Homo sapiens: one gene and its partners. The protein of the gene in region 4 interacts with the protein of the main gene of each other region in a pairwise test. Each region holds a gene or a part of one and is shown on either strand. Other genes may lie near its edges. The genes, in order: LSAMP, BAG6, ICAM5 and LRRC61.

What was found.
Region 1: the proteins of LRRC61 (region 4) and LSAMP interact in binary tests that used the Homo sapiens proteins (3 or more experiments, as listed by UniProt).
Region 2: the proteins of LRRC61 (region 4) and BAG6 interact in binary tests that used the Homo sapiens proteins (3 or more experiments, as listed by UniProt).
Region 3: the proteins of LRRC61 (region 4) and ICAM5 interact in binary tests that used the Homo sapiens proteins (3 or more experiments, as listed by UniProt).

What each region holds. Positions count from the first base shown.
Region 1 is NC_000003.12:115,801,249-115,805,885, reverse strand, and holds the end of LSAMP (limbic system-associated membrane protein isoform 1 preproprotein), read left to right. Parts: 3' UTR 1-3,512; downstream 3,513-4,637.
Region 2 is NC_000006.12:31,641,993-31,650,015, reverse strand, and holds part of BAG6 (large proline-rich protein BAG6), read left to right. Parts: intron 1-388; coding exon 389-506; intron 507-620; coding exon 621-817; intron 818-1,051; coding exon 1,052-1,105; intron 1,106-1,264; coding exon 1,265-1,339; intron 1,340-2,189; coding exon 2,190-2,425; intron 2,426-3,492; coding exon 3,493-3,622; intron 3,623-4,411; coding exon 4,412-4,609; intron 4,610-4,817; coding exon 4,818-5,070; intron 5,071-5,386; coding exon of another isoform or gene 5,387-5,413; coding exon 5,414-5,491; intron 5,492-5,601; coding exon 5,602-5,709; intron 5,710-5,821; coding exon 5,822-5,934; intron 5,935-6,038; coding exon 6,039-6,126; intron 6,127-6,900; coding exon 6,901-7,187; intron 7,188-7,612; coding exon 7,613-7,904; intron 7,905-8,023. UniProt on the Homo sapiens protein: ATP-independent molecular chaperone preventing the aggregation of misfolded and hydrophobic patches-containing proteins.
Region 3 is NC_000019.10:10,284,562-10,293,432, forward strand, and holds the start of ICAM5 (intercellular adhesion molecule 5 precursor), read left to right. Parts: upstream 1-5,390; 5' UTR 5,391-5,482; coding exon 5,483-5,564; intron 5,565-6,510; coding exon 6,511-6,780; intron 6,781-6,927; coding exon 6,928-7,248; intron 7,249-7,473; coding exon 7,474-7,761; intron 7,762-8,050; coding exon 8,051-8,305; intron 8,306-8,436; coding exon 8,437-8,685; intron 8,686-8,871. Other genes in the region: ICAM1 (intercellular adhesion molecule 1 precursor), read left to right, coding at 1-96, 222-467, 554-726; ICAM4 (intercellular adhesion molecule 4 isoform 3 precursor), read left to right, coding at 2,452-2,845, 3,052-3,277, 3,425-3,623. UniProt on the Homo sapiens protein: ICAM proteins are ligands for the leukocyte adhesion protein LFA-1 (integrin alpha-L/beta-2).
Region 4 is NC_000007.14:150,318,368-150,326,812, forward strand, and holds the start of LRRC61 (leucine-rich repeat-containing protein 61), read left to right. Parts: upstream 1-4,987; 5' UTR 4,988-5,193; intron 5,194-7,473; 5' UTR 7,474-7,643; intron 7,644-8,445.

The DNA of each region.
Region 1 (4,637 bases), on a different chromosome or scaffold from region 4:
CTTCTCCAAAGACTGCATTTGCCTCAGTGATGTAAATTTTCCATCATGGTTGGCATAATATCTGTAAACATCTCACTAAATGCAAAATGGAGTTTACATTTATGTGCATACTAGCAGAAAAGAAGTAAACTATTCTCATTTGCATGTAGCTATGCTGTTCAAATGTCGCCAACCAAAATTTAGGAAAGAATTTGTTTTCACCCAGCATGTACATCTCACTTTTCTCTTGGCAAGGAAGCTGGTGTTAACGTTGGGTTTAGGTTTAACATTTACACCAGCGAAAATGTTTATGAATATTATGGAAAACTTATTTTAAACCTTGATTTCTTTTGAGCACATTTACATGCTGCGTGCTGATTAATAAATTAGGCACCAATCATGTGTAAATCAATGTAAATCACTAGTTTATGTACATAATATAAACTATGTAAACTTCATTTTTCATGCAGTGCCCAACTACTGCTAAGGTTTACTATGATTCTTAAGGAAAAAAAAATCAAATAAAAATAAATAAAAACTGAAACGTTTCACAGTTCAGAATCGGAAGAATTACGACTAAAGCTCCAAATATGAGGTTGCCTTAGCCAAAGGAAGCAGACCCACAGGAACAGTTCAAGGTTTATATCCTGCTCAAGTCACCTCTTTGGTCTTTCAGGATCTAAGTGGAGATTGTCCCAACTGTTGCTGTAGTTGTCTCACCCGACCCCAAAGCAAGGGAAATAGAGGGAAAGGTTTTAAGGGCTATATGTCTGCTGTATCCACTCCCAGCTATCTTCTTTTTACTCCTTTCTCACCATCTAAGATGTCTTATTTAAATAGCTCCAAGGAAGTGACCTAAACCTTGATGAGCAAAATATTACTCAGTTTTTATTTTCCATTCAACAAAAGCAGTGGGAAAGCTTGCCATCTGGATTCTAAGAAATTGTGCAATATAAAAAATGTTATATCCTCGAGAAATATCTTGCTGAGTCACCCTAGGAAATAACTACCTTTTATTTATCTGGTAGCCTAATGTTTCCACACATTTATCCTGAATATTGCAAGTGAGGGACTGAATCATTTTTAATTGGGAGTTATCTTTCTCAGGCATGTTCTCTTGGAGTCTTTTTGAAGTGCCTGACACGTGTAACAGGATGACATATATATCATTCCTACAATATGAACAACTGTTACATAAAAAATTATCAAGGAGATGATTTCAGGAAACAAGTGAACTTTCTGCAAAGACTTATAAAAATTTTAGGTCAAATTAACTTCAGGCTTTAAATGCACTAATCTACCTAAGAGAAAAAAAAAGAAAAAAAACAGGAAGGAGTTTTAAGGGCTCATGTGCCTGTTGTATCAACCCCCAAGTGTCTTCTTGGTACTGCTTCCTCATCATCTAAGATAAACTGACAACTTTAAAGTGAGGTAGAAGGTGTATTGAATTGGGAGTCAGGAGAATTGGGTTCTAACCCCAAGTTCAGCCACAAATAAAGCTGTGAGACATTGGCAAGTCATTTAACTTTCCTGAGTCTTGGTTTTCTCATCCTGAAAGTGAGGGATTCGGCTGACGTCTCTAAAATCTCTTTCAACTCTAACCTTTATTCTGAATAAGAATTTAATATTCACTTAGTGCTGTGCCCAGCACTGTTTGTAAACAGCAGCTGTTTGTTATCTCTAGTTTGGTCTCTGTATTCTCATCACTTCTCAGAACTATCATTCTACCGTCTTCATTTCTAAACCCAAAACTGCTAGAATACAGGGACTCTGGACTGGGTCTGTAAATTTTTTCTGATCAAAACTTTATAGCAGTGTAGAGAAGGGACACATTCAAATTACACTAAGGACATTGACATAGCTGGGGTTGTTTCCTTGTTTATATTATAAAACCTAAATGTGGAACTATATTCTAATAATCTTTCATAGGAAGGAAAATAGCCAGACTGGGTATTATGCATGTAACAAATGAGGACATTGTGCATAAGAAAGGAAACATTAGTTTTCTGTCATCCTGGGCCAAGTACCTCATTACAGTAAATGTGTGTCTTTGGAAACTCTTTGCTTGTGCTGATGGCGGTAAGCATGGGGTCCCAGGCAGGTTCAAAGGCTGAACTGTAAGAAATGGGCAAGACAATACATTTTGTTTTGGAAGGAATTTCTCATGGGATAAGTTTCCCAAAGCTTGAATTATAGGCTATGAAATAAAGCAAATAGATGGAGAGAAAACAAGTATTGTTTTCAAAAAGTACAAGTCAATTCTATTTAAAGAAGACAAGCTGAAAATAAAACAAAAATAAACACAATTTAGGAGGTTACAGAGTTGAAGACAGTATGAATTGTTGTGAAGGCCAAAATCAAATGTGAAAGTTAGGTTCTCTGAGAAAAGGGTAAGCAGAAAGGATGATTTCTCAAGCAATTAATAAGGAATTATTTTCTTGTGCCATGTTCTAGATGCATTGAGCACAGATCCTCTTGTCCTAAGCTGTCCTAGAGGCTCAGGTTAGCATCTATCCAAAGTTGTCCTTTGATTTTATTGTCTGAAAGAACAGAAGGCATCAGAGTTTCCAGTCACTGAAGAGTAGGGTTTGTTCATCACTTCCCAGCAATCACATCACTTTGTGTAGGTAAGGATATATGATGTGCTTAGATTACTTATGAAGCTCTCTCTAAGTGGGAGAATGACCTGTCCATGGGACAACTCCCCGTTTTCATGGTCATTTCAGAAGTACCTCTTTTTGGGCAGTGCTCCTGGATCTACTTCTACAGCCACATTCTACTCTGCACAATCCTCCCTATGTAAAGCCAGGCACAGTACAAATATGCTTCTTGCAAGTGAAGAAAACCCATGGAAGTCCTAGCTTCATGGCACGCTGCAGCAATCCCAAGCTACCAGGAGCCTCTTTTGAACCCACTTCCCTAAGTCTTTGCTCTTCACCAGAGAATGGAAATTGTTCATCCTGGTGAACTGTGGCCAAGTTCTGCTCCCTAAGTATTTACTTGGAGTAGGGAGGTTAAAGGGAAGAAATTCAGGGGGAGAGAAGCAAAAGAGAACACTTCCAACTCCCTCCCCCATCTCCCAATGCTCCCCACCTTCCTTATCACTGCTCTACTGAAGGGTGTATAAATCCTGCTCTTGGTTAGAATTCTCCTTATTAACAGTGTTATATACATATAAATATATATATAAATATATTCCTTTTTTCAGCCCTGTAGACATGAACTGATCTTCCCTTGAAGATACAAACACATGGCCATTTTTTGTTTGGGATTTTTTGTTTTTCAAGGTTTTTCATTTTTGTTTATTAGGTGGATTTTTTTCCCTGGGTACTAGCTCTGTGAAGGAGATAAAAAGCGCAATGTGTGTTAAAAAAAAAAAATTAAAATTAAAATGAAAAAAAGCTTTTTTTCTTTTCTTTTTAAATGTATTTAAATTCTGTTTCTCTCTTCTGTTACTTTACACGTATGAATGCTCTGCTCTTCTGTGATCTTAAAACAAAATGAAATAAACGTGAAAAGGAGATGTGTCTTCATTGACCTGTCAGTGATCTTGTGGTTGACTGCACTGCTTCTTGGAGGTTTTCATGAATAAAAGAGAAAATGAAGCCAATGATATGAATATCATGTAAGGGAAGGGCAGAAATAATACTGAAAAATCACTTGAAGCTCTTCTAACAATGCCTCGTCTGTCACAGAAAGGAACGTGGTATTTACAAGAATTTTCTCCACCTAAGCAAAGAGATTCTGTAAACGTGTTTTTTTTTTCTTTTTCTTTTTTTCCCTTAAGGGACTGAAAGAAATAAGTATAAATTACCACTGAAATGCTATAAATAATTAAGACACTTATGATTGTTAGACTTCAGTGCAACCTTGGGTTATGATACCAAAAACATTAGAAAATATGCTCTTTCTTCAAAGTCTCCATAGTAGTGGTTATCTTTAAGGGTTAGTTTTAATGAGATGCTACCTCATAGCAGTAGAAGGAACTAAGGTACCTTCTACAGCCACCTGTTATTTCTACTTACAAAAATGCAGTTTGTTTTCTATTACTGCTGAGAGCTATGATCTTCACGAAATGTTTCCTGAATCTCTATAGAAGCCCTATTGCATTACACAGGACACATAGAAAGAAAATGAGAAATAAGCAATCTATAGTCCAAAGATCATACATCAGGAGTGACTGGGAGCGTCTGAAGTGCTACTCTTAGGAGTCAAATTGACTTTGAAACACCTCCATGAGAATTAATCCCAAGTTAGGCGGCTGGGGGATGGAATGGAGGAATGAGCACTCATGATGGGCTTCAATAATGGGAAAAGGATCAAACAGAACCAAAATTCCTAGACCCCTCTGGCTCAAAGAAACAGATTACGGTCCCAGTCTCTCCACATTTTGAATTTTATTAAAAAAAAAATCTGGCCTGTAATCCCAGCACTTTGGGAGGCCGAGGCGGGCGGATCACGAGGTCAGGAGATCGAGATCATCCTGGCTAACACGGTGAAATTCCGTCTCCACTAAAAATACAAAAAATTAGCTGGGCATGGTGGTGGGCGCCTGTAGTCCCAGCTACTCGGGAGGCTGAGGCAGGAGAATGGCCTGAACCTGGAGGCGGAGCTTGCAGTGAGCGGAGATCGCGCCACTGCACTCCAGCCTAGGGGAC
Region 2 (8,023 bases), on a different chromosome or scaffold from region 4:
GATTCTCTTGCTTCAGCCTCCCTAGTAGCTGGGATTACAGGCGACCACCATGCCTGGCTTATTTTTTTGTATTTTTGGTAAAAAAGGGGTTTTACCATGTTGGCCAGGCTGGTCTCGAACTCCTGACCTAATGTGATCTGCCTGCCTTGGCCTCCCAAAGTGCTGGGATTACAGGTGTGAGCCACCGCGCCAAGCCAAATTTATTGTCTGTATTTTGACAGCTGTTACTTTAGTTTAAGGGTTTGCACAGTAATGATCTCACGGTCAAGACAAACGGGTAGTGATTCTGTGGTGGTTTTTACCCCTCACCTCCACAACTCGGTTGTCTGTCTTTGTTCTTCCTCTTTCCTCCATTCTTTCCATTCCTGTGCATGCCTCTTCTTTTCAGATGAATGTAAAAGAGTTTAAGGAGCACATTGCTGCCTCTGTCAGCATCCCATCTGAAAAACAACGGCTCATTTACCAGGGACGAGTTCTGCAAGATGATAAGAAGCTTCAGGAATACAGTAAGGGGGCTGGGGAGGCAGTTCAGAGGTTGGGGCTACTGTCTGGAGGGATGAACTGAGGCCATGGGTTTACCTGTTCATACTATGTTTTGGTGTGTGTCTATTTTTCTGCAGATGTTGGGGGAAAGGTTATCCACCTGGTGGAACGGGCTCCTCCTCAGACTCACCTCCCTTCTGGGGCATCTTCTGGGACGGGGTCTGCCTCAGCCACTCATGGTGGGGGATCCCCCCCTGGTACTCGGGGGCCTGGGGCCTCTGTTCATGACCGGAATGCCAACAGCTATGTCATGGTTGGAACCTTCAATCTTCCTGTAAGCTTATGTTCCACAGGGGAGGGCTTTTGTGGGTAGCTTTGGTTGTGGTAGCACCAGGGAATTAATAAGATAGATGCTTCCATCTTTAGATTGGGTTCAGGGGGCCCTGTGGTGTGCTATTGGTCTCAGTCTTTAAGGAGAAAAGGAGGTAGGGCTCCAGGGAATGAATTGGAGGTGTGGAGGCCTTAGTGTTGGCTTCTCCCAGAACAACTTCCCTTACCCTTTCCCCAGAGTGACGGCTCTGCTGTGGATGTTCACATCAACATGGAACAGGCCCCGATTCAGGTATTGAGGGGCCTCCGAGGGTCAGGGAAGGGGATCTGGGAGAAGGAGGCTGGGAGGTGGGGTGGACCTGGCTGAGAGATGGCTGGGACCTGATTTAGTAGGTGGTAGAACTCATGGCTTCATCTGTAACCTACCCTGATAAACCTTCTCTCATTGTAGAGTGAGCCCCGGGTACGGCTGGTGATGGCTCAGCACATGATCAGGGATATACAGACCTTACTATCCCGGATGGAGGTAAGTGGGCAAGGCTGGCTAGGGTCTCTCTCCACCCTCCCTCTCCCTTTTCTCTCAGCCTGGGAGTTAGGGCTTCACTGGCCACATCCACAGGGTTTGGCCTTCATAATCTAGTCTTCTCTGCAGTATTCATTCTTTTGGGCAGAAAAAGTATCTTTGTGAGGCTCTCTCATTTCTGCCAATCCTCTTGGTGCCTGGTATCTGGGGAGTTTGTTTCAGACTTAGTCTCATGGCATCTCTTTTCAATTAAAGGATTCTACTCTCTTAACTTGTGGAGGCTGGGAAACCAACTTGTGGAGGAAAGGAAACCACAATCTCTACTCTTTGTTAGAAATTTATTTACAAATATTACAGATGCTGTGGCCGGGTGTGGTGGCTCCTGCCTGTAATCCCAGCACTTTGGGTCGCCATGGCAGGGGGATAACGTGTGGTCAGGAGTTCCAATCCAGCCTGGCCAACATGGTGAAACCCTGTCTCTACTACAAGTACAAAAATTAGTTGGGTGTGGTGGCACGCGCCTGTAGGCCTGGCTACTTAGAAGGCTGAGGCAAGAGAATTTCTTGAACCTGGGAGGCGGAGGTTACAGTGAGCTGAGATCATGCCACTGCACTCCAGCCTGGGCAACAGAGCGAGACTCTGTCTCAAAAAAAAAAAAAAAAATTACAGATGCTTATTATGCATCTAATTTGTGTCAGTCTTATGCTAGTTGCTAGCGAGTCGGAGATAAAATTGCAGAGCCATGCCTTCAGGGAGTCTAGTTAGGATACTTTCTCTGTTCAGTCTCCTGTAGAGTAATCCTCTGCAGCAGTCTTACCCTGCCTTTGGTATCCTGACTCTCCCCTACCTTCAGTGTCGAGGAGGGCCCCAACCGCAGCACAGTCAGCCGCCCCCGCAGCCACCGGCTGTGACCCCGGAGCCAGTAGCCTTGAGCTCTCAAACATCAGAACCAGTTGAAAGTGAAGCACCTCCCCGGGAGCCCATGGAGGCAGAAGAAGTGGAGGAGCGTGCCCCAGCCCAGAACCCGGAGCTCACTCCTGGCCCAGCCCCAGCGGGCCCAACACCTGCCCCGGAAACAAATGCACCCAAGTGAGAGATGGAGGGAATCTTTAGTGGGTGGGGAATCCTAAGTGAAGTATGGGGAGAAGGAAATGAACCATGGCAAGGGAGGGAAAGGATTACTTGGAGGTCTTAGTTGAAGGGTTAGCATTGAGGGGCGAGGAGGGGCTCTCTCGGTATAGGTAAATGACGCTAGGACAGGCAGCTGAGAAGAACTGCTGCTCTCCCTACGGCAAGGAAATCCAAATGGTATCTCCTGAGCCTGATCGGAATTCTCCTCTGAGTTCACGAAGGCCTGCTCTCTTTCTTAGAATTAGTCTTTCACCATTGTAGGTGCAGGATTGTGGTGGGGAGGGTGGGAGCAGTTCATTTTCTTCTCCCTATCCTCTCATGGGTGGGAGTAAAGAATAGAAGCTTTGGCTGGGTGCAGTGGCTCATGCCTGTAATCTCAGCACTTTGGGAGGCAGAGGCGGGCAGATCACCTGAGGTCAGGAGTTCGAGACCAGCCTGGCCAACATGGTGAAACCCTGTCTCTACTAAAAAATACAGGCCGGGCACAGTGGCTCACGCCTGTAATCCCAGCACTTTGGGAGGCCGAGGCGGGTGGATCATGAGGTCAAGAGATCGAGACTATCCTGGCTAACATGATGAAACCCCGTCTCTACTAAAAATACAAAAAATTAGCTGGGCATGGTGGCGGGCACCTGTAGTCCCAGCTACTCGGGAGGCTGAGTCAGGAGAATGGTGTGAACCCAGGAGACGGAGCTTGCAGTGAGCTGAGGTCGCACCACTGCACTCCAGCCTGGGTGATAGAGCGAGACTCTGTCTCAAAAAAAAAAAAAAAAAAAAAAAAACAAAAATTAGCCGGGTGTGGTGGCAGGCAACTTAATCCCAGCTACTTGGGAGGCAGAGGCAGGAGAATCGTTTGAACCTGGGAGGCGGAGGTTGAAGAGAATAGAAGCTCTGCTGGTCCAGAGAAGGATTGGGCCAGGGCTCTGGGAGACCAGGGAGAAAGAGGGCACATGTGGTCCCTGTTGACTGTGAGGGTGGGAATCTGAGGAAGGCTTTGGCTCATTGCCCCTTGGGTTTGTCCACAGCCATCCTTCCCCTGCGGAGTATGTCGAGGTGCTCCAGGAGCTACAGCGGCTGGAGAGTCGCCTCCAGCCCTTCTTGCAGCGCTACTACGAGGTTCTGGGTGCTGCTGCCACCACGGACTACAATAACAATGTGAGCCCTTTGATGGCCCTGCCCTTTCTCCTCAGCCCCAGTACTCCCAAAACAGAACAGGCTGAAATGCAGATAACTCTTTCCCTCCCTGGAAAAACATTGCAACAGGGCCAGGTGCAGTGGCTCACGCCTGTAATCCCAGCACTTTGGGAGGCCAAGGTGGGCGGATCATCTGAGATTGGGAGTTTGAGACCAGCCTGGCCAACATGGTGCAACCCCATCTCTACTGAAAATATAAACATTAGCTGGATGTAGTGGTGCACACCTGTAATCCCAGCTACTCAGGAGGCTGAGGCAGGAGAATCGCTAGAACTCGGGAGGAGGGGGTTGCAGTGAGCCGAGATTGCACTACTGCACTCTAGCCTGGGTGACAGAGCGAGACTGTCTCAAAAAACAAAACAAAACAAAAAAACACACATTGCAACAAAACAATTTCTCTCTAAACCTGTAAGTGATTTTGTCCTCCCTTACAGAGAAGGTGATAATCTTTGCTGTAAGCACTGTCCTCGTATCGTACCCCTTGTGCCCCTGAATGAATTTAGAAAATGTAAAGTACAGGAGATCAGTATATGATGACTTACTGATTCATAGTAGTGTTTTAATAGGATGTTCCTTATGTGAATAAGATATAATTTATTTGCAAAGATTTGGTCTACATGTAAACTTCCAAGGATATAACTGAAAGTTTTGGAGGACATGGTATTCTCAGTAGGCATTATTGCTTTTATTAGTGAGATGGACTCCAGCTTGATATTTTCTGCCTTTTTGTGTTTGGCTGGTTGTGCGCAGCACGAGGGCCGGGAGGAGGATCAGCGGTTGATCAACTTGGTAGGGGAGAGCCTGCGACTGCTGGGCAACACCTTTGTTGCACTGTCTGACCTGCGCTGCAATCTGGCCTGCACGCCCCCACGACACCTGCATGTGGTCCGGCCTATGTCTCACTACACCACCCCCATGGTGCTCCAGCAGGCAGCCATTCCCATACAGGTGGGTTAGGGGGAGTCTGGCCTGAGGGAGAGTGAGGGGTGTTGATAGAGTGACCCAGGGTAGCTACTGGGCCTGAAGGAGGTTAGGAAAGGAGGAGACTGGAAACATGGTGATGAAGGCTGGAGATACTTTAGAGGTTTATCATGAGGTTTTCTTGGTTAGGCTCTTGTATTTTTCTCACATCTGCCTGTCCATCTGTCTTTTTCAGATCAATGTGGGAACCACTGTGACCATGACAGGAAATGGGACTCGGCCCCCCCCAACTCCCAATGCAGAGGCACCTCCCCCTGGTCCTGGGCAGGCCTCATCCGTGGCTCCGTCTTCTACCAATGTCGAGTCCTCAGCTGAGGGGGCTCCCCCGCCAGGTCCAGCTCCCCCGCCAGCCACCAGCCACCCGAGGGTCATCCGGATTTCCCACCAGAGTGTGGAACCCGTGGTCATGATGCACATGAACATTCAAGGTGAGAATAGTTGCTGGCGAGAAGAGCAGGATCAGCATGATGAGGGAGGTTCATGCTGAGGTGTGAGGGAACAGGGTGGGGAAGGGAGAGGCACATGCTGGTGGTGGTAGCCTGGGGACCAGAGCAGAAGCTTAAGTAGACAGATGTGGGGGGTGTGGGGGTTGGTTTGTCTTTGGAGGTGTGTTTGTGTGGTGAAGGGAGTACCTCTCCCTGTTTAGATGGAGGGAAAGGCAGGCTTTCTGATTGGGGGATTATGGGCCTGAAGTATGCCTGATCTCAGAAGGATATAGTTAGGCCTTGGCCCTACCTACCTCAGGGCCACTGTCTCTGTCTCCCTGCCCAGATTCTGGCACACAGCCTGGTGGTGTTCCGAGTGCTCCCACTGGCCCCCTGGGACCCCCTGGTCATGGCCAAACCCTGGGTAAGAGTGAGGGCATCAGGGCAGGCTGAGCTCTGGGTAGAGAAAGGGAAGGGCTGAGTGGGTGGGTTGAAGGGGTCCAGGTTCAAGGTTACATCAGACCCGCCCCCCAGGCTCCACCCTCATCCAGCTGCCCTCCCTGCCCCCTGAGTTCATGCACGCCGTCGCCCACCAGATCACTCATCAGGCCATGGTGGCAGCTGTTGCCTCCGCGGCCGCAGGTAATGACCTGGAAGGGGAGGCTTGGGAGGTAGGGCACAGTCCATGGTGGCAGCTGGCTGGCAAGGGCCTGGCCCTCAGCCCTCTTCGGTCTGTCTCTTCTGCCACCCACAGGACAGCAGGTGCCAGGCTTCCCAACAGCTCCAACCCGGGTGGTGATTGCCCGGCCCACTCCTCCACAGGCTCGGCCTTCCCATCCTGGAGGGCCCCCAGTCTCTGGGACACTGGTGAGCAAGGGTCGGGGAGTTCTAGTGCGTAACAGTCTAGGGAGAGACTCCTGTGGTGGTGCATGGAAGGGCAGGTCTGAAATTCTCCCTTGCTCTCTATCCAGCAGGGCGCCGGTCTGGGTACCAATGCCTCGTTGGCCCAGATGGTGAGCGGCCTTGTGGGGCAGCTTCTTATGCAGCCAGTCCTTGTGGGTGAGTTTTCATTCTTCCCCACTCAGAGTTTAAACTCCTTTCCTAGTCTGCTCACTGGCACTTTCCAGTTCTTTCCATATTTTCTTGGTTCCTGCTTTCCTGGAATGGGGCTGCTGTAGTGTCTTGTGTCTTCAGGTTTCAGCTTTTTTTTTTTTTTTTTTTTTTTTTGAGATGGAGTCTCACTCTGTTGCTAGGCTGGAGTGCAGTGTACAATCTTGGCTCACTGCAACCTCTGCCTCCCGGGTTCAAGTGATTCTCCTGCCTCAGCCTCCTGAGTAGCTGGGACTACAGGTGCACGCCACCACGCCCAGCTAATTTTTTATGTTTTTAGTAGAGAAGGGGGTTTCACCATGTTGGCCAGGATGGTCTCGAACTCTTGACCTTGTGATCCACCCACCTTGGCCTCCCAAAGTGCTGGGATTACAGGCTTGAGCCATCGTGCCCGGCCAGCTTTTTTCTTTTTTTTTTAAGTTACAGAGTCTTGCTCTGTCACCCAGACTGGAGTGCAATGGTGCAATCCAGTGAGTTAAAGCTCACTGTAACCTTGAACTCCTGGGCTCAAACAGTTCTCCCACCTCAGCCTCCTGAGTAGCTAGCAGTACTAGCTCCTGGCTAGTAATTGTCTTTTTTTTTTTCTGGTAGAGATGGGGTCTTGCTATGTGGCCTAGACTCCTGGGCTCAAGCAGTTCTCATGCCTTGGCCTCCCAAAGTTGCTAGGATTACAGCCAAGAGCCACCATGCTCAGCCCAGCTTTCTTTTTTTGGTTTCTTACAGCTCAGGGGACCCCAGGTATGGCTCCACCGCCAGCCCCTGCCACTGCTTCTGCCAGTGCTGGCACCACCAACACAGCTACCACAGCTGGCCCCGCTCCTGGGGGGCCTGCCCAGCCTCCACCCACCCCTCAACCCTCCATGGCTGATCTTCAGTTCTCTCAGCTTCTGGGGAACCTGCTAGGGCCTGCAGGGCCAGGGGCTGGAGGGTCTGGTGTGGCTTCTCCCACCATCACTGTGGCGATGCCTGGTGTCCCTGCCTTTCTCCAAGGCATGACTGACTTCTTGCAGGTGAGTGGCTGGCTTGCCATTCACCTCATCTTCCTGTCCCCCGGCCCAGCCAGGCAGTGGTACCTTCTTGCCATTATATAACCACTGGGTAAGAGCCCCTAGTGACATGTTAGGGGAAGGGGCCCTGGGAATTCATTGACTCTGAACCTTTCATTTTAAAGATGAAGAAAATGAGGTTTAGAAAAAGAAAGTATAGTAATTAGTGTCACTGCTTTCTGACAGCCTGTTCAGAGGAAGAGGTAGGTAAGTTGTGCTGCCTGACTCTGTTAAATACCTACCATACTTCTGCTTTAAGCAGTGAAGATCAGAATGTAACTCCCCATCTTCCCAGACCCGTTGGTTTGTGCCCTCTTGATGCCGTATTATTTCCGTGTGTCTTCATTCTCACCTCACTTTCTGTTCTTTGTTCTTTCTTTATTTGCCAGGCAACACAGACAGCCCCTCCACCACCCCCACCTCCTCCACCCCCACCACCTGCCCCAGAGCAGCAGACCATGCCCCCACCAGGCTCCCCTTCTGGTGGCGCAGGGAGTCCTGGAGGCCTGGGTCTTGAGAGCCTGTCACCGGAGTTTTTTACCTCAGTGGTGCAGGGTGTGCTCAGCTCCCTGCTGGGCTCCCTGGGGGCTCGGGCTGGCAGCAGTGAAAGTATTGCTGCCTTCATACAACGCCTCAGTGGATCCAGCAACATCTTTGAGCCTGGAGCTGATGGGGCCCTTGGTGAGCAAAAAGGATGCTTTGGCTTGCTCCAGGAAGGGGCAGCCAGAGGAATGTAGATGGCCTTGGTTTAGGGGTGTTGCCAAGGTGGGATGAGGTTGATGATCTGGTTGTGGGTGGGC
Region 3 (8,871 bases), on a different chromosome or scaffold from region 4:
CAGAGGACAACGGGCGCAGCTTCTCCTGCTCTGCAACCCTGGAGGTGGCCGGCCAGCTTATACACAAGAACCAGACCCGGGAGCTTCGTGTCCTGTGTGAGTGGGGCTGCTGGTCAATGGCCCCTATCCCCCAAGGCCCAATCTCCCTGAAGGTCCCATAAGGTCTTGCCTCCAAGTCCTGCCCCCACCCACCTCCATGTCATCTCATCGTGTTTTTCCAGATGGCCCCCGACTGGACGAGAGGGATTGTCCGGGAAACTGGACGTGGCCAGAAAATTCCCAGCAGACTCCAATGTGCCAGGCTTGGGGGAACCCATTGCCCGAGCTCAAGTGTCTAAAGGATGGCACTTTCCCACTGCCCATCGGGGAATCAGTGACTGTCACTCGAGATCTTGAGGGCACCTACCTCTGTCGGGCCAGGAGCACTCAAGGGGAGGTCACCCGCAAGGTGACCGTGAATGTGCTCTGTGAGTGAGCCGGCGGGCAGAGCTGGGTGGGGGCAGGGGCCATGGACCTAATGCAATCCTCACCGCCTGTTGTATCCTCCCCACAGCCCCCCGGTATGAGATTGTCATCATCACTGTGGTAGCAGCCGCAGTCATAATGGGCACTGCAGGCCTCAGCACGTACCTCTATAACCGCCAGCGGAAGATCAAGAAATACAGACTACAACAGGCCCAAAAAGGGACCCCCATGAAACCGAACACACAAGCCACGCCTCCCTGAACCTATCCCGGGACAGGGCCTCTTCCTCGGCCTTCCCATATTGGTGGCAGTGGTGCCACACTGAACAGAGTGGAAGACATATGCCATGCAGCTACACCTACCGGCCCTGGGACGCCGGAGGACAGGGCATTGTCCTCAGTCAGATACAACAGCATTTGGGGCCATGGTACCTGCACACCTAAAACACTAGGCCACGCATCTGATCTGTAGTCACATGACTAAGCCAAGAGGAAGGAGCAAGACTCAAGACATGATTGATGGATGTTAAAGTCTAGCCTGATGAGAGGGGAAGTGGTGGGGGAGACATAGCCCCACCATGAGGACATACAACTGGGAAATACTGAAACTTGCTGCCTATTGGGTATGCTGAGGCCCCACAGACTTACAGAAGAAGTGGCCCTCCATAGACATGTGTAGCATCAAAACACAAAGGCCCACACTTCCTGACGGATGCCAGCTTGGGCACTGCTGTCTACTGACCCCAACCCTTGATGATATGTATTTATTCATTTGTTATTTTACCAGCTATTTATTGAGTGTCTTTTATGTAGGCTAAATGAACATAGGTCTCTGGCCTCACGGAGCTCCCAGTCCTAATCACATTCAAGGTCACCAGGTACAGTTGTACAGGTTGTACACTGCAGGAGAGTGCCTGGCAAAAAGATCAAATGGGGCTGGGACTTCTCATTGGCCAACCTGCCTTTCCCCAGAAGGAGTGATTTTTCTATCGGCACAAAAGCACTATATGGACTGGTAATGGTTACAGGTTCAGAGATTACCCAGTGAGGCCTTATTCCTCCCTTCCCCCCAAAACTGACACCTTTGTTAGCCACCTCCCCACCCACATACATTTCTGCCAGTGTTCACAATGACACTCAGCGGTCATGTCTGGACATGAGTGCCCAGGGAATATGCCCAAGCTATGCCTTGTCCTCTTGTCCTGTTTGCATTTCACTGGGAGCTTGCACTATGCAGCTCCAGTTTCCTGCAGTGATCAGGGTCCTGCAAGCAGTGGGGAAGGGGGCCAAGGTATTGGAGGACTCCCTCCCAGCTTTGGAAGCCTCATCCGCGTGTGTGTGTGTGTGTATGTGTAGACAAGCTCTCGCTCTGTCACCCAGGCTGGAGTGCAGTGGTGCAATCATGGTTCACTGCAGTCTTGACCTTTTGGGCTCAAGTGATCCTCCCACCTCAGCCTCCTGAGTAGCTGGGACCATAGGCTCACAACACCACACCTGGCAAATTTGATTTTTTTTTTTTTTCCAGAGACGGGGTCTCGCAACATTGCCCAGACTTCCTTTGTGTTAGTTAATAAAGCTTTCTCAACTGCCTCAGCCTTGTGTGAGTTGAGGGGAGGTGTCACATCCAGCTGGAGTCCTTTCTAAGCAGCCACAGCCTGATCCTCCCACTTCCTCCCCCAAGAAAACATTGTGGGTTGATGGCCATACCCTGAGGTTCTGGTCCAAATCGGACTTTCTATGACCTTCTGGGTCTCTAGTGAAAACTAAAGACTCCTCTCCAGAAAAAAACATTTGGTTTCTAATGAGGCCTGGAATCTTATTCTTGACCTGGGGAGCGGAATCCCTTTTTGCAGTACTCCCGGGCCCTCTGTTGGGGCCTCCCCTTCCTCTCCAGGGTGGAGTCGAGGAGGCGGGGCTGCGGGCCTCCTTATCTCTAGAGCCGGCCCTGGCTCTCTGGCGCGGGGCCCCTTAGTCCGGGCTTTTTGCCATGGGGTCTCTGTTCCCTCTGTCGCTGCTGTTTTTTTTGGCGGCCGCCTACCCGGGAGTTGGGAGCGCGCTGGGACGCCGGACTAAGCGGGCGCAAAGCCCCAAGGGTAGCCCTCTCGCGCCCTCCGGGACCTCAGTGCCCTTCTGGGTGCGCATGAGCCCGGAGTTCGTGGCTGTGCAGCCGGGGAAGTCAGTGCAGCTCAATTGCAGCAACAGCTGTCCCCAGCCGCAGAATTCCAGCCTCCGCACCCCGCTGCGGCAAGGCAAGACGCTCAGAGGGCCGGGTTGGGTGTCTTACCAGCTGCTCGACGTGAGGGCCTGGAGCTCCCTCGCGCACTGCCTCGTGACCTGCGCAGGAAAAACACGCTGGGCCACCTCCAGGATCACCGCCTACAGTGAGGGACAGGGGCTCGGTCCCGGCTGGGGTGAGGGGAGGGGGCTGGAAGAGGTGGGGGAAGGGTAGTTGACAGTCGCTCTATAGGGAGCGCCCGCGGACCTCACTCAGAGGCTCCCCCTTGCCTTAGAACCGCCCCACAGCGTGATTTTGGAGCCTCCGGTCTTAAAGGGCAGGAAATACACTTTGCGCTGCCACGTGACGCAGGTGTTCCCGGTGGGCTACTTGGTGGTGACCCTGAGGCATGGAAGCCGGGTCATCTATTCCGAAAGCCTGGAGCGCTTCACCGGCCTGGATCTGGCCAACGTGACCTTGACCTACGAGTTTGCTGCTGGACCCCGCGACTTCTGGCAGCCCGTGATCTGCCACGCGCGCCTCAATCTCGACGGCCTGGTGGTCCGCAACAGCTCGGCACCCATTACACTGATGCTCGGTGAGGCACCCCTGTAACCCTGGGGACTAGGAGGAAGGGGGCAGAGAGAGTTATGACCCCGAGAGGGCGCACAGACCAAGCGTGAGCTCCACGCGGGTCGACAGACCTCCCTGTGTTCCGTTCCTAATTCTCGCCTTCTGCTCCCAGCTTGGAGCCCCGCGCCCACAGCTTTGGCCTCCGGTTCCATCGCTGCCCTTGTAGGGATCCTCCTCACTGTGGGCGCTGCGTACCTATGCAAGTGCCTAGCTATGAAGTCCCAGGCGTAAAGGGGGATGTTCTATGCCGGCTGAGCGAGAAAAAGAGGAATATGAAACAATCTGGGGAAATGGCCATACATGGTGGCTGACGCCTGTAATCCCAGCACTTTGGGAGGCCGAGGCAGGAGAATCGCTTGAGCCCAGGAGTTCGAGACCAGCCTGGACAACATAGTGAGACCCCGTCTATGCAAAAAATACACAAATTAGCCTGGTGTGGTGGCCCGCACCTGTGGTCCCAGCTACCCGGGAGGCTGAGTTGGGAGGATCCTTTGAGCCCTGAAAGTCGAGGTTGCAGTGAGCCTTGATCGTGCCACTGCACTCCAGCCTGGGGGACAGAGCACGACCCTGTCTCCAAAAATAAAATAAAAATAAAAATAAATATTGGCGGGGGAACCCTCTGGAATCAATAAAGGCTTCCTTAACCAGCCTCTGTCCTGTGACCTAAGGGTCCGCATTACTGCCCTTCTTCGGAGGAACTGGTTTGTTTTTGTTGTTGTTGTTGTTTTTGCGATCACTTTCTCCAAGTTCCTTGTCTCCCTGAGGGCACCTGAGGTTTCCTCACTCAGGGCCCACCTGGGGTCCCGAAGCCCCAGACTCTGTGTATCCCCAGCGGGTGTCACAGAAACCTCTCCTTCTGCTGGCCTTATCGAGTGGGATCAGCGCGGGCCGGGGAGAGCCACGGGCAGGGGCGGGGTGGGGTTCATGGTATGGCTTTCCTGATTGGCGCCGCCGCCACCACGCGGCAGCTCTGATTGGATGTTAAGTTTCCTATCCCAGCCCCACCTTCAGACCCTGTGCTTTCCTGGAGGCCAAACAACTGTGGAGCGAGAACTCATCTCCAAAATAACTTACCACGCTGGAGTGAGACCACGAATGGTGGGGAGGGGAGGGTCCCACGGACATATTGAGGGACGTGGATACGCAGAAGAGGTATCCATGTGGTGGCAGCCGGGAAGGGGTGATCAGATGGTCCACAGGGAATATCACAAACTCGAATTCTGACGATGTTCTGGTAGTCACCCAGCCAGATGAGCGCATGGAGTTGGGGGTGGGGGGTGTCAAAGCTTGGGGCCCGGAAGCGGAGTCAAAAGCATCACCCTCGGTCCCTTGTTCTCGCGTGGATGTCAGGGCCCCCACCCACCGAGCAGAAGGCGGACTCAGGGGCGCTCCAGGGTGGCTCGAGCTCACACACGCTGAGTAGACACGTGCCCGCTGCACCCTGGGTAAATACAGACCCGGAGCCGAGCGGATTCTAATTTAGACGCCCGCGAACGCTGCGCGCACGCACACGTGTCCTCGGCTCGCTGGCACTTTCGTCCCGCCCCCTCCGTCGCGTGCGGGAGCTGACCCGGAGGGGTGCTTAGAGGTATGGCTCCGCGGGGTCAAAAGGAGAAGGATCAGTGAGAGAGGCATCCCCACACCCTCCCCTAGAACTGTCCTTTCCCCATCCAGTGCCTCCCAAATCTCTCTTAGTCCCCAAATGTATCCCCGCCCTAAGGGGCGCTGGTGGGAGGAGCTAAATGTGGGGGCGGGGCTCGGAGTCCAGCTTATTATCATGGCATCTCAGCCAGGGCTGGGGTAGGGGTTTGGGAAGGGCAACCCAGCATCCCCCGATCCCAGAGTCGCGGCCGGGGATGACGCGAGAGAGCGTGGTCGCCCCCAGAAGGCCCTGGGCCATCATGCCGGCCTCCACGTAGACCCCAGGGGTCGCTCACTCCTGCCAGCTCGCCTTCACCAAGGCCAGGAGCTTAGCGCACGCTCGCCTCCCGCCCCCCCGCCGCCTCTGCCGCCGCCCCCTCCTTGGAAACCAAGTTACCAACGTTAAACCAATCCCCAAGCGCAACTCTGCCTCCCCCACACCCCACCCGCCGCGCCGCGCGGAGCCGTCCTCTAGCCCAGCTCCTCGGCTCGCGCTCTCCTCGCCTCCTGTGCTTTCCCCGCCGCGGCGATGCCAGGGCCTTCGCCAGGGCTGCGCCGGGCGCTACTCGGCCTCTGGGCTGCTCTGGGCCTGGGGCTCTTCGGCCTCTCAGGTAAGAGCCCCGCTCTGGTTCGGGGTGGACAGGGCGGGGGCGGAGTCCCTGGACCTGAGAAACGGCCTCCTGTCCCTCCCAGCTCTGCCCTCGCCTCGCTCCCACGCCTCTGCCCCCACCTCGAGCCTGAGTCTTCTCCCCTTCCCCCTCCTCCCCAACACACACCCGAGCCCCAGCTTCCTGACTCCTCGATAGCCCCTACCCGCTTCGAGATCCTAGGTGTTCTTCCGCACCCAACCCTTCGCCCTGGAGACCCAGTGTCTCTCCTGTCCGCTCCCCGGGTACCTCCTTACGCTGTGCTGTGCACCATGGTCCACGGACTGGCATCTTCCCCACTCGCGGTCCGCGAAGACTCCATCTCTCCAACTACCCTGACTCAGAGGCGCTGTTCCCGCTCCACCCAGAGCCCTGGCAACCGGGTCCCTCAGCTGTTCCCGCGGTTCCTTCCATGAGCCCAGCCTTGCGTCCCGGCTCCGTGTTCTTCACCGGGTGTAGGGTCCTTCCTGATCCTTGACCCAGCCTCGTCTCTCCTTTGCCCTTGCCGCAAACGCACTCTCCTCGTATCCCGGCATTCTGCCAGGACCCTGAGAACTGGTTCATCCCCCATCCCCCATCCCGGGTCCCCTTCTCTCAGCCTTGCTGTGTTCATCCAAGAACCCACCTTTCCTCTCCTCTACGCCCTCCCCCCATGCTTTCCCGCCGCTCCATCGGCGCTTTGGAGACCATGGCTCTCTGCTACCACGTCCCAGAGACACCCTCGAGGTTTAGACTCTGGGAGTGCGCCTTTAAACCGGAGGCCTGGGCAGGACGCGGGACGCCTGGGTTCTTTCCCTGGCTGCAGCCTCTCCTCCTCCTCCCCGCCCTCTGAGAACCCTTGACTCGACATAGGGGCGCTAAGATGTCAGGGAGTTGGCTCCCCAGGCTCAGCCCGCGTTTCCCTGGGCAGCGGTCTCGCAGGAGCCCTTCTGGGCGGACCTGCAGCCTCGCGTGGCGTTCGTGGAGCGCGGGGGCTCGCTGTGGCTGAATTGCAGCACCAACTGCCCTCGGCCGGAGCGCGGTGGCCTGGAGACCTCGCTGCGCCGAAACGGGACCCAGAGGGGTTTGCGTTGGTTGGCGCGGCAGCTGGTGGACATTCGCGAGCCGGAGACTCAGCCCGTCTGCTTCTTCCGCTGCGCGCGGCGCACACTACAGGCGCGTGGGCTCATTCGCACTTTCCGTGAGTTCTGGGTGGCCACGCGCGTACTCCACTACTCTCCCTCCCTCCCAGGCCCCGCCCCCTGGGTCCCAGGGTCCTCCCCTTCAGGCCCCACCTTCTGTTCCAAGTCCCGGTGTTCAAAGAGCTGCGGACTCTTCCCCCTTGCAGAGCGACCAGATCGCGTAGAGCTGATGCCGCTGCCTCCCTGGCAGCCGGTGGGCGAGAACTTCACCCTGAGCTGTAGGGTCCCCGGCGCCGGGCCCCGTGCGAGCCTCACGCTGACCCTGCTGCGGGGCGCCCAGGAGCTGATCCGCCGCAGCTTCGCCGGTGAACCACCCCGAGCGCGGGGCGCGGTGCTCACAGCCACGGTACTGGCTCGGAGGGAGGACCATGGAGCCAATTTCTCGTGTCGCGCCGAGCTGGACCTGCGGCCGCACGGACTGGGACTGTTTGAAAACAGCTCGGCCCCCAGAGAGCTCCGAACCTTCTGTGAGTGGGTGTGGGGAGGAGATGGGGACCCAGTGGGGTCGGTCGGTGTTTAGGAGGTTTAGAGGTAGATACATCTGAATGCTGACCCCGACTTCAACCCTCGCCGGCTGAGCTGTTTCCCCCTCCGTGCCTTGAGGATGATAATACGATAAGATAGTGCATGTCAAGTGCTTAGGACATATTGAGCGCTCGGAGTTAGTTCAAACTTGGTTCTTCGACCCCTAGCCCTGTCTCCGGATGCCCCGCGCCTCGCTGCTCCCCGGCTCTTGGAAGTTGGCTCGGAAAGGCCCGTGAGCTGCACTCTGGACGGACTGTTTCCAGCCTCAGAGGCCAGGGTCTACCTCGCACTGGGGGACCAGAATCTGAGTCCTGATGTCACCCTCGAAGGGGACGCATTCGTGGCCACTGCCACAGCCACAGCTAGCGCAGAGCAGGAGGGTGCCAGGCAGCTGGTCTGCAACGTCACCCTGGGGGGCGAAAACCGGGAGACCCGGGAGAACGTGACCATCTACAGTAAGGAAGGAGGCGGGGTCTCCGCGGCTCCGAGGTGGGACCAGAGGAATGCGAAGGCGGGGCGAAGAGTGGGCGGGACCTCAGTACCGGAACAGGCGTGGCCCGAGGGGCGGGGCAGGTGGGGGCGGAGACGTAATCGCTGGGGAGGAGGAGCCTGTACAGCCTGAGAGGCGGGGCGCCGTACCCTAGTTCGTTCTCAGCACCCCGAGGATTCGGGCAGATAAGGGGCGGGCCTTGACCGGAGGGAGGGGTATGGTCAGTATACTACGACCAAATGCTCCGCCCCCAGGCTTCCCGGCACCACTCCTGACCCTGAGCGAACCCAGCGTCTCCGAGGGGCAGATGGTGACAGTAACCTGCGCAGCTGGGGCCCAAGCTCTGGTCACACTGGAGGGAGTTCCAGCCGCGGTCCCGGGGCAGCCCGCCCAGCTTCAGCTAAATGCCACCGAGAACGACGACAGACGCAGCTTCTTCTGCGACGCCACCCTCGATGTGGACGGGGAGACCCTGATCAAGAACAGGAGCGCAGAGCTTCGTGTCCTATGTGAGTTGGTGATAACCCCTCGCCCCCCACCTTCTGGTGACTTCCAAGGACCCGCCTGCTCCCTCACCGTGTCGTGGAGGCGGAGCCATTTCTTACGTCTAAGCCTCTGTAACCCCACGCCCTGCCCGCAGACGCTCCCCGGCTAGACGATTCGGACTGCCCCAGGAGTTGGACGTGGCCCGAGGGCCCAGAGCAGACGCTGCGCTGCGAGGCCCGCGGGAACCCAGAACCCTCAGTGCACTGTGCGCGCTCCGACGGCGGGGCCGTGCTGGCTCTGGGCCTGCTGGGTCCAGTCACTCGGGCGCTCTCAGGCACTTACCGCTGCAAGGCGGCCAATGATCAAGGCGAGGCGGTCAAGGACGTAACGCTAACGGTGGAGTGTGAGTGGGGGTGCGCAGGGTGCATTTCTATCTGGTTCAAGGTCTGGAGGGTGGCCAGCCTCCAGGGAAGAGTAGGAGTAGGGTATGAGGTGTCCCTTTGGGTGAGGTTTTGGGAAAGGGAAGAGGCTGGTTAGTGGGGTTGGAGAAAGATCTTGGAGGATGGAAGGGACCGGGTGGGCGTGCCCC
Region 4 (8,445 bases):
CTCCAGAACCGTGAGACAATACATTTCTGTTGTTTTAGGCTACCCTGTTTGTGGTATTTTCTTACTGCAGTCCTGGAAAACTAATAAAGATGCCAACTTTAAAGTATACAGAGTTGCCAGTTGCGGTGGCTCACGCCTGTAATCCCAGCACTTTGGGAGGCCAAGGTGGGCGGATCACGAGATCAGGAGTTCAAGACCAGCCTGGCCAATATGGTGAAATCCCATCTGTACTAAAAATACAAAAATTAGCCAGGCGTGGTGGTGCAGAGCTGTAGTTCCAGTTACTCGGGAGGCTGAGGCAGAAGAATCGCTTGAACCCGAAGAGCCGAGATCGCACCACTGCGCTCCAGCCTGGGTGACAGAGTGAGACTCCATCTCAACAACAATGGCAACAACAACAACAAAACAAAGAACATACAGAGTTTTTCAAGATTCTTCTGGGGGCCCGTGAGCCCAAAAATTTGCTTTAGATCAGTGTTTCTCAAAAGCTTACATAAACCATGTGATTCTCATGCATTTCACTCCCTTAGGGGTTTATTTTAAAAGTCATTTTCTGGGCTTCTTCCAGACCCACATAATGGGTGTGGGCCCTGTATTCTGCATTTTCAAACAAGTTTCCCAGGTTCTTCTACATCCCAAAACACTGCTGAAGTAGGAAGATACCTGGGCTGTAGACAAAAATTTGGATTTAATCTTTACCCAGTCTATTACTGAGCAAGTCTTGTCAATTTAGGCAATTTAAGAGTTAAAGTGTACACTCTACTGGGAAAATCCCCGGTTCCAAGTCGAGTGACTCTGAAATTTATTCACTGCACAGCATTTGTAAAATTGCTTCTTCTTTTTTTTTTTTTTTTGAGACAGAGTCTCACTCTGTTACCTAGGCAGGATGGAGTCCAATGGCGTGAGCTTGGCTCACCACAAGCTCCGCCTCTCAGGTTCAAGCGATTCTCCTGCCTTGGCCTCCCGAATAGCTGGGATTACAGGCATGCACCACCATGCCTAGCTAATTTTGTATTTTTAGTAGAAACGGGGTTTCTCCATGTTTCTCAGGCTGGTCTTGAACTCCTGACCTCAGGTGATTTGCCTGCCTCGGCCTCCCAAAGTGCTGGGATTATAGGCATGAGCCACCTCGCCTGGCCCAGAACAAACTTCTTAAGGGTCTGTCTAGCTCTGACATTCCACAAGGCTATGAAATGGTCCAGGAAGAGTTAGGGCAGGATGGCAAATTCAGGTGCCTTTGACTTTGGGAAGATGGAGGCAAAGCACTTTGTCCATCCAATTACTTTGTATTTATTTATTTATTGTTTGTTTGCCCAGACTCCAGTCTTGACAATTACTCTGCATTTTAAAACACTGTTGGGGCTAACCCTACCAACCTCTCCCCTGACCCGAGACAGAGTTAGCAGCTAATGTAGCTACTTCCCACTTTCTGTCACCCCTGCAAACAGGGCAAACAGGGATGCTGTATCTGGAAGCTCTAGGGGCAGGAGCCAGTCCTATTTATCCTTTGTAAAACACCTAGCAAAACGAGATGATTTTAGGTCAACCCTCCTGAAACTTGGCTTGGCTGCAGTGACAAGTTTTGTACCTACAGGAAGATCAGCATTTCCTTCCGTTCTTCCTCTGCCAATCCATCCCTGACTGGTCTTTTGCCCTCTTTTGAGTAAGAAACTCCTTGTTTTAGAGTGTTTCTGGATTAACGCTGGAAAGGGACCAACTCTGAGCCCATAGTGTGGATCCCATGTAACAGTACTCTTACCAGAAAAGGGGTTTCACCCCAGACCCCAAGGGCAGGTTCTTGGATCTTGCACAGGAAAGAATTTAGGGTGAGTCGCAAAGTACAGTAAAGTTTAAATGGTTTATTAGAAACTAATCTATTAGAGTAGGGTATCCTCAGGAAGCAAGAGGAAGAACGCCCTACCTCAAATGTAATGCTTGTTTGTGTAGGATATTAGAGCTAAGAATAGTGTATTTTATTACAAAGGCTTGTGATCGGCTTGTGACAGACTATCTGTATTGTTATTCTCTTGTGCAATTAATTTCAGAAAGAATTTATGAGTGGACTATTATCTTTAGAGCAAAATATAGTTTAAATTAAGAATGCCTTTTTCCAGGCCAGGCGCCATGGCTCAAGCCTGTAATCCCAGCACTTCGGGAGGCTGAGGTGGGTGGATCACTTGAAGTCAGGAGTTTGAGACCAGGCTGGCCAATATGGCAAAACCCCGTCTCTACTAAAAATATAAAAATTAGCCAGGTAAAGTGGCGCACATCTGTAATTCCAGCTACTTCGAAGGCTGAAGCAGGAGAATCACTTGAACCCGGGAGGCAGAGGTTGCAGTGAGCCGAGATGGTGGCATTGCACTCCAGCCTGGGCAACAGAGTGAGACTCCATCTCCAAAACAAAAACAAAAACAAGAATGCCTTTTTCCATTAACTTGTTTCCTCAACAATAAACATCTTGTGATCAAGAGTGCTGACTTCCTGGGAATGCAACCCAGCAGGTCTTGCCTTCCCCAGCCTTTATTTAGGATAGTGTCACTCTAGTTAGGACACCTCTGACAATACAACTCAAATCATTGGTAGCTCATGAAAAGAACTCACTCTTTGACTAAACTTGAGTCAGGCTCCTCTCAGTCCTCGTTTTGACTAGGCCCTGACCCTGGGCTGGTCCTTAACTCACTTAGTTCAGTTTTAGCAAGAATCCTGCTGAGTCAGTTCAGCAAAAATCCCCTACCCTTGGTATCTGATCACCTCGGCTTGTGTTCAGCAAAAATCTCCCTAACCTTTATGTGTCCTCTTAGTAATTTTCCATCTGCTGACTTCCACCCTGTTGCTTAACTATAAATCTCCACCTGTCCTTGTATTTGATGTTAAGCCTGATTTTTTTGCCCCTATTGCATAATCCCTATTGCAGCTGTTCTTGAATAAAGTCTCTCACCTTAACAATTGTTTGAATAATTTTTCTTTTAGTGCCATTTCCTACTGTAACATGCTGTGTGAGTCTCAATTTTCTGATCCATATAATGGAGAAACTAATACTTCCATCTCCGAGGCATGGAGATCAACTGAAATTAAAAATAACTTGCATATGGCTGGGCAGGGTGGCACACACCTGCAATCCCAGCACTTTGGGAGGCCAAGGCGGGCAGATCACTTGAAGTCAGGAGTTTGAGACCACCCTGGCCAATATGGCGAAACCCCGTCTCTACTAAAAATACAAAAATTAGCCAGGTGTGGTGGTTCACGCCTGTAGTCTTAGCTACTTGGGAGACTGAGGCAGGAGAATCGCTTGAACTCAGGAGGTGGAGGTTGCAGTGAGCTGAGATCACACCACTGCACTCCAGCCTGGGCAAGAGAGTGAGACTCCATCTCAAAAAAATAAAAATAAAAATAAAAAACTTGGATAAAGTGTAAAGATAAAAATCACTATTCTTGGGCAGGGGTCCCAGCTGTAGCCCAAGCTGGAGAACTAGACTGGCTTGGCATTAATTTGCTTGGGGCAGGAGAAGGGTCATCTGAAAGATATGGGAAAAGCTGAGGTTGCCCCTGGGAAGACTAGGGAAGCCTGCCCCCGGGCCAGCCCCTTGAATATGTCCAACTGAGGAGGTGGAAAGAAGTTCAAGGTAGCCAGGGAGACAAAAGTTGTTCACTTTGGTGCACATGTGGAACCAACATGGGACAAACAGGCATTTTGTGCTCGTCCAGGGAACATGACTTCTTCGGCTCCCACACAATTTGTAGCTGCAGGAGTGGCAGAGCACCAGAGTGGATGCAGGCCCAGATGTTCTCTGGGTTAGGTGTTAAGGACTTGTGGGAGTCATCAGGCAGCAGGCATTTGCCCCAGTGTCAGAGGTGTTTAAGCCAGAATTACTCCATCTTGAATAAGGGCTGGGTAAAATGAGGCTGCATTCATAGGAGGTTAGGCATTCTAAGTCACAGGATGAGACAGAAGGTTGGCACAAGATACAGGTCATACAGACCTTGCTGATAAAACAGGTTGCAGTAAAGAAGCTGGCTAAACGCCACCAAAACCAATATGGCAATGGGAGGGACCTCTGGTGGTCCTCACTGCTCATTATGCACTAATTATAATGCATTAGCATGCTAAAAGACACTCCCACCAGCAAGCACCATGACAGTTTACAGACGCCATGACACCATCATGAAATACTCTATATGGTCTAAAAAGGGGAGGAAGCCTCAGTTCCGGGAACTGCCCACCCCTTTCTCTGAAACTCATGAATAATTCAACCCTTGTTTAGCATATAATCAAGAAATAACCAAAAAATGGGTAACCAGTAGCCCTGGAGCTGCTCTGCCTATGGAGTAGCCATCCTTTTACTTCTTTGCTTTCTTAATAAACTTGTTTTCACTTTACTCTATGGGCTTGCCCTGAATTCTTTCTTGCATGAGATCCAAGAACCCTCTCTTAGGGCCTGGATCGGGACCCCTTTCTGATAACACCAGGAGACACCCTGGGTGGATTTCCTGAACCGACCGATAGATGAGCCTTCCACGCGGGAGACCTGGATCCTTATCGTCTTTGTGGCCCCTTCCATCTGCACGTGCGGACGAGGTCCGGGTCGCACTCGGGCGGTCAGCCTGGCACGCACAGCGCCGGCGTGCAGGGGGCCTTGGGTGCCACCGAGTCCGGGAGGAAATCTAGGCCGCCATCCGTCCGGAGACTGGCACCTGTGACCACCACCCAACATGTATTGAACAAGGGCTTGGAGGTCCTTTCTCTAAGGCCGCACCGATAAACGATTACCGACTGTTGACCTCACGGCCCCTTCGCTTCCGGCCGCACCGCCTCGCTGCCCACGCCTGCGCACTCAGGCACCGCAGGTAGGAGGAACGTACCAACTGCGAGGCGGGGGGTGCGCGCGAAGACCCCCGCAGGCTGCGCTTCCGGAAGTAACCCCTGGCGCATCCCGGAATCCAGAGCGCCCACTACGGCCTTTGGCCAGGCCCCCTGGGCGCGTTCCGGGAGCTCAGGCCTGCGGCGCTGGGAGAAGCACGCTGGCCAACAAGTTGGGTGGTGGGCACGCGGCCCAGGGGTCAGGGGCCGCCAGGCGGCGGGCGGCGGGGCTGCGGCTCTTACCTGCCGAGGAGGCGCCGGCTCTGCGGTGCGGAGTTGCGCCGGACTTCCCAGCTTGGCCAGTGGCTCCGCAGGCTGCCGGCTCCACCCCTCAGGTAAGCGGGGACTGGGCCGCCGAGGTTCAGGGAAGGGGGCGGCTGTCGGGGCCCGTGCCGGCCCCGGGGGGCCACCTGCTGGGCCAGCGGTGCCCTCGCGCCGAAACACACTGGGAGAGGCCAGAATCTTCCGGAACAGCCAGCCCTTACCCATCTCTCCCTCTGTGCCGAGAACTGCCCTGAAATACTGTGGTATTAATTAACTCGTTTAACACTAACAATCTCATGAGGCGGGTGCTGTTACTATTCCCGTAATGTAGACGAGGAAACCGAGGCGTGTGCTGGAGCAGGATCACGGCCGTGCTCAGAGACGGGCTCTGGATGCCATGCTCTGACTCCATTGTTAGCCCTAAGCTTCCAGAAAGTAGCAGAGTGCTGCCGTGTCGTTTGTAACAGATCTCACTTTGTGTCATTTTTTTTGCACAGTATGAAACCTAATGATGCATGATTATTATTTAAAACATCTTGCTTAGACTTTATAAGTAGTCAAATTTGCGTGTGGGACAAAACCCCAAAACATGCAATGGCTTGCTCTCCTCTTTTCCTTTCACACGTTCATCTCCTCCTATCCCTTTCTCTCACCACCTTTCAATCTTCTCACAGATGTTGTGGAGGAAGATGAGACTTGAGGGCCCAGCAGGTGCTTAAAATCCCCTGCCTGGTGGGGGTGGAGTAGACACTCTGTCCCCCTGCAGTGCTGGAGTTGAGAGCAGAGGGGCTGGAGAGGGACTGGGCGGAGTGAGAAAGGCCTGGCATAATCATGGAATGCCCAGGGTGGGGTTCTACTTCTCTTGCAGGCACAAGAGAAGTAGAAGAGTGGCCGCTTTCCTTCTGGGCACGCACTTGGGAAAAGGCTTGGTGAGAGCAGCGAGAAGAATAGGTCTAATTTCTTGAGCCAGTGTGCGGAGGTGCTTCCCAGCCCAGGCTAAGCCAGATCACTCAGCCAGCCGCTGGCTGCCTTTACAGATGTACGGCTCCCCGTGAGCAATCAACATGCCTGGCTCTCAGGCATAAGCTGCCTCACTTCCCTTCTGCACAGCACTCCAGGACTTGCCTGCTACCAGACCCATCCTACTTTCTCTGTCAGGAAAAATGAGAGTTCTTCCTGGTCTCTTGAGGCCAATCCCTTCCACCGCCTGTGCCCTGGATCCCTTTCTCCAGGAAGCTTCTCTTCCCTGTGTAGTTAGCCTCCCCGCTCTTCCCAGGTCACCTTCTCTCTGTTTAGGGACAGAGCCAAGCCTTTTCCCTCCCATCCCCACCTCCAGCATTCCCGGTTCCTGCTTCTCCCCCACTTCCTGCTGTACCGCCCACTGAAGGGACCTTTGACCCCGCTGACCACTGCTTTTGGAAAGTCTTTTCTTGGTTTCCCTAACTTCACTTTACTTTGGTTTTTCCTTGTCTCTCCCCTCTGCCTCTCAGTCACCTTTGAGATCTGCTCATCCTCTCACCTCCCTGTATTGTCAGCATTACCTGGGCAGCCCCCTCTGGTGTTTTCCTTCAGTTTCTCTAGAAACTTGCCTGAAGATTTGCCCCAAAATAGCCCACATGGACCTGTATGAGGAAAGAGGCTCACTGTGGAGGCGCTCTCCATCATTCCTCCTCTTCCACTTGAGGCTTAGGCATGGGCCACCTCCTGAACAGCTCTCCCCACAGTCTCCTCCATGCATTGTGCCATCACCCCGCCCTGCCGTCACCCCGGCCTGGCCCGCTTTCCCTTTTGCCTCCCAGGGATGTGCCTGCTTCCCATGTGGCCTGGCTAGGGCGCTTTCCTGACTGCTGCCCACATGATCGACTATGGGCAGGCGTGCAGCCCAAAAGGCCGTGCTTCAGCTTAGAAGCCCTTGGAATCTTGTCTTGTTGTGGTTGTAGGCCTCCAATGTGTTGTCAGCTGTGGTGATGTGTGTCACAAGTAACTTCTTTTTTTTGAGACAGGGTCTGGCTCTGTTGCTCAGGCTGGAATGCAGTGGTGCAATCACGGCTCACTGCAATCTCCACTTCCCTGCTCAAGCCATCTTCCTGCCTCAGACTGCCAAGAAGCTGGGACCACAGGCACAGGCCATCACAGCTGGCTGATTTTTTTGTATTTTTTTTGTAAAGACAAGGTTTCGCCATCTTGCCCAAGCTGGTCTCAACCCCCTGAGTTCAAAGCAGTCCACCCACCTTGGCTTCCCAAAGTGCTAGGATTACAGGCGTGAGCCACCACACCTGGCCACAAGTAACTTCTTAGTTATAAAGTACTGAAATTTATCAATGACTTTCTTTTTAAAATTTACGTTTTAGATTCATTTGGATTCAAGGTTGGCTCTCAACAGTGCCAGCTGCACTGTCATCCTAAAGTACTTCTGTGGAAGAGAACATGGTGGTGTCACTGTTGTACCAGTGATGACACAAAATCCCAGATCTACCTGACGGGCCTGCGAGGGTTGAAGATTGTGAAGCAATAGCCTAAGGTAAACAACACCTTGCAAGACGGGTCTAAGCTCTTCAGTGTAATAGACCCTGTTTCTCAGTAGGTCAGCCCGGGGGCCCCCCAGGGATCCCTCCCCGCCTCATAGCACCATACCCCACTTTCCCCCTGGTCTAATGATGAGCCCATTTCTAGGTTGTCGTCTCATCCTGAGCCCCAAGTGCCAGCCAGGCAGCTACTCTCCTCTGTTCATATCTTGAAGGCAGAGTGCTGGCTCATAGTAGACATTTGATGAATTTCTGTTAAATGATTGAGTGAATCAAGAGTATCTGCAGAGTATAGCATTTATGATGAGACAAAGCTAATTGGGAAACAGAACAAGATTGGTGTCCTGGGGTAACTGGGTAGGTCTTAAGATGAAGATTTTGGGGTGTGCTGGGTGCAGTGGCTCACACCTGTAATCCCAATACTTTGGGAGGCTGAGGCAGGGGGATTGCTTGATCCCAGGAGTTCAAGACCAGCTTGGGCAACATGGTGAAATCCCGTCTCTACAGAAAACACAAAAATTAGCTGGGTGTGGTGGTGCACATCTGAAGTCCCAGCTACTTGGGAGGCTGAGTTTGGGAGGATTACTTGAGCCCAGGAGGCAGAGGTTGCAACAAGGTAGATCATGCCACTGTACTCCAGCCTGGGTGACAGAGCAAGACCCAGTCTGAAAAAAAAAAAAAAAAAATACTTTGGAGGGTGACCCCGTTCTGCAGATGGCCTCTGGAGGCCTGGATGTTCACACTCTGGGGTTGCAGTTTCCTCAATCATGAAGTGAGAGTTAAGTCCCCTCCAGTGTG